2 linked regions of the Homo sapiens genome follow. The protein of the gene in region 2 purifies or fractionates together with the protein of the main gene of each other region. This does not show direct contact. Each region holds a gene or a part of one and is shown on either strand. Other genes may lie near its edges.

The links.
Region 1: the proteins of NANOG (region 2) and USP9X purify together in Homo sapiens (affinity purification with western blotting; 2 studies listed by BioGRID, with this or other methods). This does not show direct contact.

What each region holds. Positions count from the first base shown.
Region 1 is NC_000023.11:41,164,535-41,168,944, reverse strand, and holds part of USP9X (ubiquitin carboxyl-terminal hydrolase 9X), read right to left. Parts: intron 3,074-4,410; coding exon 2,731-3,073; intron 1,464-2,730; coding exon 1,368-1,463; intron 939-1,367; coding exon 727-938; intron 1-726.
Region 2 is NC_000012.12:7,794,800-7,800,120, reverse strand, and holds the end of NANOG (homeobox protein NANOG), read right to left. Parts: coding exon 5,026-5,321; 3' UTR 975-5,025; downstream 1-974. UniProt on the Homo sapiens protein: Transcription regulator involved in inner cell mass and embryonic stem (ES) cells proliferation and self-renewal. Imposes pluripotency on ES cells and prevents their differentiation towards extraembryonic endoderm and trophectoderm lineages.

The DNA.
Region 1 (4,410 bases), on a different chromosome or scaffold from region 2:
GAAGCAACTGTATATAATTTCATGATTAATAAACAAAACTCTTTAAAAAAAATGATGGCATTGACTACACAAAACATCCCAAAACTATAAACACCATTTGAAAATATTTGTTATATGCCATGCAAGGCAGCTTTTAAGAGCTCTTTACAGGCCAGGCACTGTAGCTCACGCCTATAATCCCAGCACTTTGGGAGGCCAAAGCAGGAGGATTTGCTTGAGCGTAGGAGTTTGAAACCAGCCTGGGCAATGTAGTGAAACCCCACCTCCACAAAAAGTCAAAAAAAATTAGCCAGGTGTGGTAGCCTGTGCCTGTAGCCCCAGCTACCTGGGAGGCTGAGGTGGAAAGGTCGCTTGAGCCCGCAGTGAGCCATGATTACACCTCGGCATTCCAGCCTGGGTGACAGAATAAGACCTTTTCTCAAAATAAACAAATAAACAAAAACACTTCAACTGCAAAATGCCACTGCAACACTTAATGAGTAATAATGTCAAAGACAAAAAGAAAACTAGAAAACAACTTAAGAATGCCTCACCCAAAAAACCAAAACAAAACCAGATGGGAGAGTGGGGGAGGTTATTAAAAAAAATTAGATGAAATGAAAATGTTTTTAATGGGCAAAGACAACAATTTTCAAACGAGAAAAATTTCTGCTCTCCTTTTACCAAATGGCTAGGAAAATATCAAATAATTAAGAATTAGCACCAATAGATTAGTTATTCACAAACCTCGACATAGGGAGAATTGTTCTTTCCTCATGATAATCACTGTCACATTCATTTATATATTCCCTTAAAACAGTTAATACTCGAACCATTCGAACAGCTTCCTGTCTTGCACAATTAACACTGTCTTTGTCACCATCCAAAACACACAATGTGTCATAGGAAGCCTTCAGACGATCAAAACAAGACTGAATGAAGTCTTCATGGATCACCACCTACAAATATCAGGCCAAATAAACACAGTTAAAATTGCTTTAAAATGTAAAAACCAAATATTAATCCAATTAAAGATGGCAATGGCTGATTTAATTGTAGCACTCAATTAACAACAGTCATATTTAAGTAGAGAATCCATACAATAATAAAATGTATGTTTATTAAAAGGAAGCTAGCATTACATAAGTTAACAAACATAAATTAGTCAAAAGTGAACTTCAGGATTAGGTGTTAGCATCAAAATGAATTCACATAGACTTTCTTTGCCATTTCAACATCTAATAAATAGTTATATTAAAAATAACCCAATCACTTCAAGACAACTAACAAGGCAAGATTCATTTAGATAATATTTTTTCTCTTTTGTATAAGAGAAATGGGGGCCGAAAGAATTATATATGGAAGTTTTAATGCACATCAATCCTCACCTGATTGACTTGTAGTCTTGGACCAAGGTTCGTGTATATCTCTTTGAGGAGATCTATAGCTCTGCTGGCAATATCATCATTACTCTGAATCACGACCTGGTTTCAAAATGATAAAAGTATTCATCCCTTTCAACATATATTTTTGTTGGGCATTTAAATTCAAACCATATCCTCAGTTATCTTAAACACACTATTCAATGATTTAATGGTAAGTTGACTTTGATAATCAAGTAAAATTAAGTGAGAAGCACAGACCAAAAGAAAGGGTAATAAATGCAAAATGAAAGTCTCTGAATAATTTAAGAATGAAAGGTACATTTTTGTAAAAATAAAATACGCTTTGACCACTATTATTTAACCCTATAATTTAATATCTTGATAACCAAGTGAGACACTCAAGAAGAAATTCAAATTAGTTGACAGGAAATAAGAGATTACATGAAACACAGTTTAGCATAAAGGACTACTCTACCCCCAGTTTCTATAAATCTTTATCACTCATCTAATTACATTAGTGGTTTCCAAACTATGTTCAGAACCCTAGGGGACTTTGAGGAAGTGTTTCAGTGTTGGCCCCTATAAAAGGGTTGGGGAGGGGAAAGGGGATAAGCATGGGGAGACCAAGTAAGAAAACATATTTTCCTTGTTCAATTCAGTTTACTTTTGTAGTGTGGTGCAAATTTTGAGTTTTAAGATGTGTTTCTGCTGTTAAAACAATGTTGAAAACCACATACTTAATTAAAAGCTTTTAAATACTCAAATGCCACAATAAACATCTTTATCTATGGTTTGCAGGAAAATATGTGAGACATCCAAACAATATAAACTGCTGTATAACAGGTCAGATTAAAGATAGGCATAATAGAGTAGTACTATAAAAATAGATTAGCCTTAAAAAGATAGTATTTTATTCCCCCAGGTATTTAAAAATATCACAAGGTAAACAGTGCCAATAAAGCATATACTCATAATCTATACTAAACACAAGTCCTCTCTTCTGTCCTCTATTTTAGTGTTAAACATTGAAGAGGAGGAAACAGATCGACACTGAATGAAAACTCGGGAAGGAACATTAATATCCACGGGGGAGGAATGAAAGATTTGTATGTTTAGTGCACATCTATGGAATACACAGATACTAAGCTAAGACAAAAGGAACATCAGTGGCAGGAGGAGGGAGAGGAAGAGAGAAGAAAAAGCCCACTGACAGGTGACATAATAAAAATGAACAATTCCTAACTACACCAAATTCCTGAGACAAACATCAGAGTAAAATACACAATTTATATGCAAAATTACAATTCCTTACGTACATGAAAAAGTACATCAGACACCATTTACAGAGTTCCTACTTTTGACTTACCCTCCAAAGGTAATCTAATCCTATTAACTCCAAGTCATCCATCATATAGGCTCTCCTTTTTGCTACTAGTTTTCCTTCTCGACAATTCACAGCTTTGAAGAATCGCTCAAAACACTTCATTCCATTTTCAGTTAACAGAGAAGGATCAAGCTGAAGCACATTACTTTCAAAGAAGTCCTTATTAATATCAGGATCTAAGTCTGGTTCATCCCCCATCAACTTGGAATACCACTTAAAACAGGCTTCACGATCACAAAGGTAAACTGCATTCTCAGCTAAGCATTTCCATATTTGTTTTGCCTGAGGAGCACATAGCCACAGCTGACCATCCTTCAATAAAAATCTTGAAAAAACATTGAAAATTGGCAATTAGATTTATGTAATTTTTATCCGGAAAGGCAATCTGTATTACCTATAAAATACATTTATCACCATTATATTTTAACTATAGATAAAAAGATATTCATTCTTTCAAAATAACCTATTTCTCTACTTTTATCTGGTACTAAAAAAAAATCCCCACTAGATATTAATTAATTCAACAAGCACACACTGAACACCCACTTTGTGCCTGAAATGCAGCTAGCTGAATTAGGAATAAAAGATTCATTCCATGAACCTTTAGTTTTTGAAACCAGACTTTTGGAAAGAAGCATGTTTAGTAGCTTGAGTTAAAAATAAAAGACTTAGGCTGGGCACAGTAACTCACGCCTGTAATGCCAGCACTTTGGGAGGCTGAGGTGGGCGGATCACCTGAGGTCAGGAGTTTGTGACCAGCCTGGCCAACATGGCAAAACCCCATCTTGACTAAAAATATAAAAATTAGCCGGGTGTGGTGGCTCATGTCTGTAGTCCCAGCTACTGGGGAAACTGAGGCATGAGAATCAATTGAACCCGGGAGGCGGAGGTTGCAGTGAGCCAAGACTGTGCCGCTGCACTCCAATTAAAGATGGCAATGGCTAATTTAATTGTAGCACTCAATTAACAACAGTCATATTTAAGTAGAGAATCCTGGGTGAGACCCTGTCTCCAACAACAACAACCAGAAAAAAGACTTAGCAGCCTGCTTATATGGCATCATTGAAAAATGAGGTATTCAATCAAGTGACTTTCACAAATAACTAATCCATCAATATTTATGAGTTAAAACTGCTTAACTTTTCAAAGGTTTTCCATTTTTTTGTTTTTTTCTAAAGATGGCATAGACCCTTCTTCAAATGAAAATCCCATTTGGAATCTGATATATATTTTAAAAAGTAGAGCTGCACCAGTTGTTGGGAGAGGAAAAAGAAAGGAAAAATCGGGAAACTTCCTACTGCTTGTTCAGAAATCTTCAAGGAACTTAACTCAGAAGCCCTAAAGCTCCTACGTAAGTTTGAAAAACTACCGGTCTAATAGGAAGAGCACAGACTTAAGTAAAAGAGACCTAGTTGAGTAGTGCAATTCCATCGTATACTGGCTGTGATATTTCAAACAAGCTACCTTAAGCCATTGGAATCTTGGGTTTCTTACTGATCAGATGGGAGTAACACCTGCTGCACTGTGTTGCTTCGGAGTAAATATAAAGTGTCTGGCACAGGCCCAACACACAGCAGGCATTAAAGTCAGGTTCCTCTTCCTTGAGTTAGTTGCTATTAGCTCACATACAGAGGTACTAACAGAGTAGAAACTACAATAGTT
Region 2 (5,321 bases):
GTAGTTAAGATTACAGGCATGTGCCACCATGCCCAGCTAATTTTTATATTTTTAGTGGAGACAAGGTTTTATCATGTTGGTCAGGCTGATCTCAAACCCCTGAGCTTGTGATCCACCAGCCTCAGCCTCCCAAAGTGCTGGGATTACAGGCGTGAGCCACCGTGCCCAGCCCAGTGCTATGTAAATCTAAAGTACTCTTAAAGGTATTTACCTCCAAACGGAACTCATTTTAATTTCAGTTTTTTTGTTTTTTTGGTTTTTTTTTTTGGAGACGGGGTCTTGCTCTGTCTCACAGGCTGGAGTGCAATGGTGCGATCTCGGCTTACTGCAACCTCCGCCTCCCAGGTTCAAGCAATTCTGCCTCAGCCTCCTGAGTAGCCGGGATTATAGGCCCCTGCCATCATGCCCGGCTACTTTTTATTTAGGAGACGGGGTTTCGCCACGTTGGCCAGGCTGGTCTTGAACTCCTGTCCTCAGGTGATCCACCCACCTTGGCCTCCCAAAGTGTTAAGATTATAAGCTTGAGACACCATGCCTGGCCTGCAAATAGATTTCATAGCTGCTCAATGAGCCAAGAACTACTTTCGTGGCCAGGAATAACTGCCCCTTTGTCTCTCTGATAAGAGCACATTGACACCCATGTTCCAGGTACATCTGTTCTGCAGATCCCTGGCCCTAATTGAATCTCAAATTCTCACCCTTGGTTCTTGTCCTTAGCTCTTGTGACTACGCCAGTGTTATCAGAGGACATGTAAACACTGCTACCCTTTCTACTCCACATGCACCTTATCCTAAATGGATTAATGTATCCCATCTTTTTGCCTGTTTTGTTCCATGTATTTAATTGATTTAATACGATTCTAGCATCTTAATTTGATCTGTGAGCTTTTCTGTTTCTTAATAGTTTGCTTGGTAGTATCATCAGAGGTAGTGCTACCACTGCATTGAAGTAATTTCTCAGATGCTTAACCTTCTAAAATTCTCAAGCACACTTTATTCAAGGACCACAGAGTTTACACCAACTACCCAGAAGCCAGGAATAGCTTAAGGAGAGACTCACCACCAGCAGCTTCTTTTCAATCAAGTTTCACTTCAACCTCACACCCAGGAACCCATTCAAATTCCTACATTTCGGTATCCTTAGTCGAACTAACTTCCTGTGCCGGAAGCTTTTGTCTGTCCCAGTGACTTCTTTCTTTAACAAATTCCCTTCATCTCCCCCTTGAGTCAAAGCCCATGGGGGCCCCAGGAGGCATGCAATATTTACCAAGGGCTCTCCCCCACTTTCCTGCCTCTGTCTGGCAGTTGTTTGCCTTTACTTTTAGGTTTGTAGTCACAGCCTGTATTTTTTCCTGTAGACACACCAGGTTTTCTGAACGGTAGAATTACTCAGAGTAGAATTAACCTTGTCCTTCACCCCGAGAACTGAGCTTGAAATTCACTAATCAAGGCCTGTATTCCTCCCACTTCTGAGTTTTAAATTTATATTATGAAATTCGGAAAACCCAGGCAAATTCAATCCATGCTTCTCTCCTTCAGGTACAAACTGAAATGAAAATGAAAGCTGAGAAATCAAAATAATGAATTTTAAAAACTAAAATATGGTAAAGCTACTAAAATATAGCATTGGAAGTAACACACACCTCCTTTTGGGAAAAGAAAGGAAAATTTTCTAGAGAAAGGAAGAAATGTTAAACAGAGAGCCTTGTACTATCCTTTTTGCCTAATCTCCTATTATTTTTGTTTATTTTTGAGACAGTGACGCTCTGTCGCCCAGGCTGGAGTGGGGTGGCATTATCTGGGGTCACTGCAACCTCCCGGGTTCAAGTGATTATCCTGCCTCCGCCTTCCAAGTAGCTGAGATTACAGGCGCAAACCAAGACCTCTGGCAAATTTCTGTATTTTTAGTAGAGACAGGGTTTCGCCATATTGGCCATGCTAAACTTGAACTCCTGACCTCAGGTGATCCACCTGCCTTGGTCTCCCGAAGTGCTGGGATTACAGGTGTGAGCCACGGCACCTGGCCCACTAATCTTACTGCTTTTGACTGTAGTTATTATTGTTACTTTAAAGATTATTCCAAATAGATCTCTAAATTCTTACCTGCCAAGAGGTTGAAGATTAATACTGGGTGATTAAAAAAAAAAAAGTTCAGAAAACATAATACAGGGCTAGGCTGGTGACTCATGCCTGTAATCTCAGCACTTCGGGAGGCCAAGGCTGGTAGACTGCTTGAGCTCAGGAGTTTGAGACTAGCCAGGCCAACATGGGGAAACCCCGTCTCTCCTAAAAACACAAAAGTTAGCTGGCATGGTGGTGTGCACCTATAGTCTGGGCTATTTGAGAGACTCAGGCAGGAGGATTGCTTGAATCCGGGAAGTCGAGGCTACAGTGAGGTGAAATGGTGCCACTAAGCCCCAGTCTGAGCAGCAGAATAAGCCCGTCTTAAAAAAATAAAAAAGAAGGCTGGGCACTGTGGCTCATGCCTGTAATCCTAGCACTTTGGGAGACCGAGGAGGGTGGATTACCTGAGGTCAGGAGTTCGAGACCAGCCTGGTCAATACGGTGAAACCCCATCTCTACTAAATACAAAGAATTAGCTGGGCATAGTGGCAAATCCCTGTAATACCAGCCACTCGAAAGGCTGAGGCAAGAGAATCACTTGAACCTGGGAGGTGCAGGTTGCAGTGAGTAGAGATTGCATCATTGTGCTCCAGCCTGAGTAACAAAAGTGAAGTTCCATCTCAAAAAAAAAAAAAAAAATTGCCCAGACACGGTGGCTCACACCTATAATCCCACCACTTTGGGAGGCCGAGTCAGGTGGATCACCTGAGGTCAGGAGTTCGAGACCAGGCTGGCCAACATGGTGAAACCCCATCTCTACTAAAAATACCAAAAATTAGCCGGGTGTAATGTTGGGTGCCTGTAATCCCAGCTACTTAGGAGGCTGACGCAGGAGAATTGCTCGAACCCAGGAGGCGGAGGTTGCAGTGAGCCAAGATTGTGCCACTGCACTCCAGCCTGGGCAATAGAGAGAGACTGTCTAAAAAAACAAACGATAGGCCAGGCGCAGTGGCTCACGCCTGTAATCCCAACACTTTGGGAGGCCAAGGCTGGTGGATCATGAGGTCAGGAGTTCAAGACCAGCCTGGCCAACATAGTGAAACCCTGTCTCTACTAAAAATACAATTAGCTGGGCATGGTGGCTCACCCCTGTAGTCCCAGCTACTTGGGAGGCTGAGGCAGGAGAATCACTTGAACTCGGGAGGCGGAGGTTGCGGTGAGCCGAGATCGCTCCACTACACTCCAGCCTGGGCAACAGAGTAAGACTCCAGTCTTAAAAAAAAACAAAATAAAACAAAAAAAAAACACTTGGAATTAGACTGGATAGTCTTAGTAACATTGGACAATTGGGGAAATAATGAGAGAAAAGACTGGAAAAAACCACTCTGATAACCTGCATCATGCTGCTTCAGAGTGAAGGGACGTGCTCTCAGATCAGATACATTTAGGGCAGGCACAAGATGGGAAAAGGACAGTAAAGGATTATTAGTATAATTCACAGATGCCTGCGTAGCTGCTCTTAAGGTGAGAACATAAATCTGTTTCAACTAGCCTTAGAATTTACTTACATATAGGCCTCTGATGAAACTTTAAATGTTAGCATCAATTACAGATTCATACACGGAAATAACCCATTACATTTGTAGATGCACATGTACAATGCACGTAAGTGCCCTTTTTTCTAAAACTGGCATATTTATTATTCATTCATTCTAAAACTGGCATATTTATTTATTATTCATTTATTTACTTATTTATTTATTTATTTTTGAGATGGGAGTTTTGCTCTTGTCGCCCAAGCTGGAGTGCAGTGGTGTGATATTGGCTCACTACAACCTCCACCTACCAGGTTCAAGCGATTCTCCTGCCTCAGCCTCCCAAATAGCTGGGACTACAGGCATAGGCCACCACGCTCAGCTATTTCTATGCATTTCTAAGATAGCAGTGTCCTCAGCTAATTTCCTTCTCCACCCCAACCAAAAATTTAACAAAGATTTATGTTTAAGCTGTATATTTACTCATTGAAACACTCGGTGAAATCAGGGTAAAATCAACTAAAGGAAAAATAGTTGTTTCATTCATTTGAACTTAAACCAACTAAAGCAGTACTCATGTCATTACGATGCAGCAAATACGAGACCTCTTTCTACAAAGATTAGCACAACCAACAAATTAGGGGATATAGCAAAACAGAGCCAAAAACGGTAAGAAATCAATTAAGTATGTTACAGCTTAACCCTTTACCTCAATAGTTTTTAAAAAATAAGCAAAGCCTCCCAATCCCAAACAATACGAATACATCTTCATCACCAATTTGTACTTGTATTTCTTATTCTTGAGGTTAGATTCTAAACCCTAAAGATATCCAAACTAGTATTAGATCTACTTATCTATAGCCAGAGACGGCAGCCAAGGTTATTAAAATGTCTTTTCTAGGCAGGGCGCGGTGGCTCACGCCTGTAAATCCCAGCTGTTAGGGAGGCCGAGGCGGGTGGATCACAAGGTCAGGAGATCGAGACCATCCTGGCTAACACAGTGAAACCCCGTCTCTACTAAAAATACAAAATATTAGCCGGGCGAGGTGGCGGGCGCCTGTAGTCCCAGCTGCTCGGGAGGCTGAGGCAGGAGAATGGCGTGAACCCGGGAGACGGAGCTTGCAGTGAGCCAAGACCGCGCCACTGCACTCCAGCCTGGGCGACAGAGCAAGACTCCGTTTCAAAAAAAAAAAAAAAAAAAGTATTTTCTCCAGGAAGATCCAATAGGAAAAAAAAAAAAAAAGAAACCTCGCTGATTAGGCTCCAACCATACTCCACCCTCCATGAGATTGACTGGATGGGCATCATGGAAACCAGAACACGTGGTTTCCAAACAAGAAAAATCCTATGAGGGATGGGAGGAGGGGAGAGGAAGGATTCAGCCAGTGTCCAGACTGAAATTGAGTAATATCAGTTTCACTCATCTTCACACGTCTTCAGGTTGCATGTTCATGGAGTAGTTTAGGAATAAATCCATGGTTTGTGGAGTACTAAAATACCTAGTGGTCTGCTGTATTACATTAAGGCCTTCCCCAGCAGCTTCCAAGGCAGCCTCCAAGTCACTGGCAGGAGAATTTGGCTGGAACTGCATGCAGGACTGCAGAGATTCCTCTCCACAGTTATAGAAGGGACTGTTCCAGGCCTGATTGTTCCAGGATTGGGTGCACCAGGTCTGAGTGTTCCAGGAGTGGTTGCTCCAGGACTGGATGTTCTGGGTCTGGT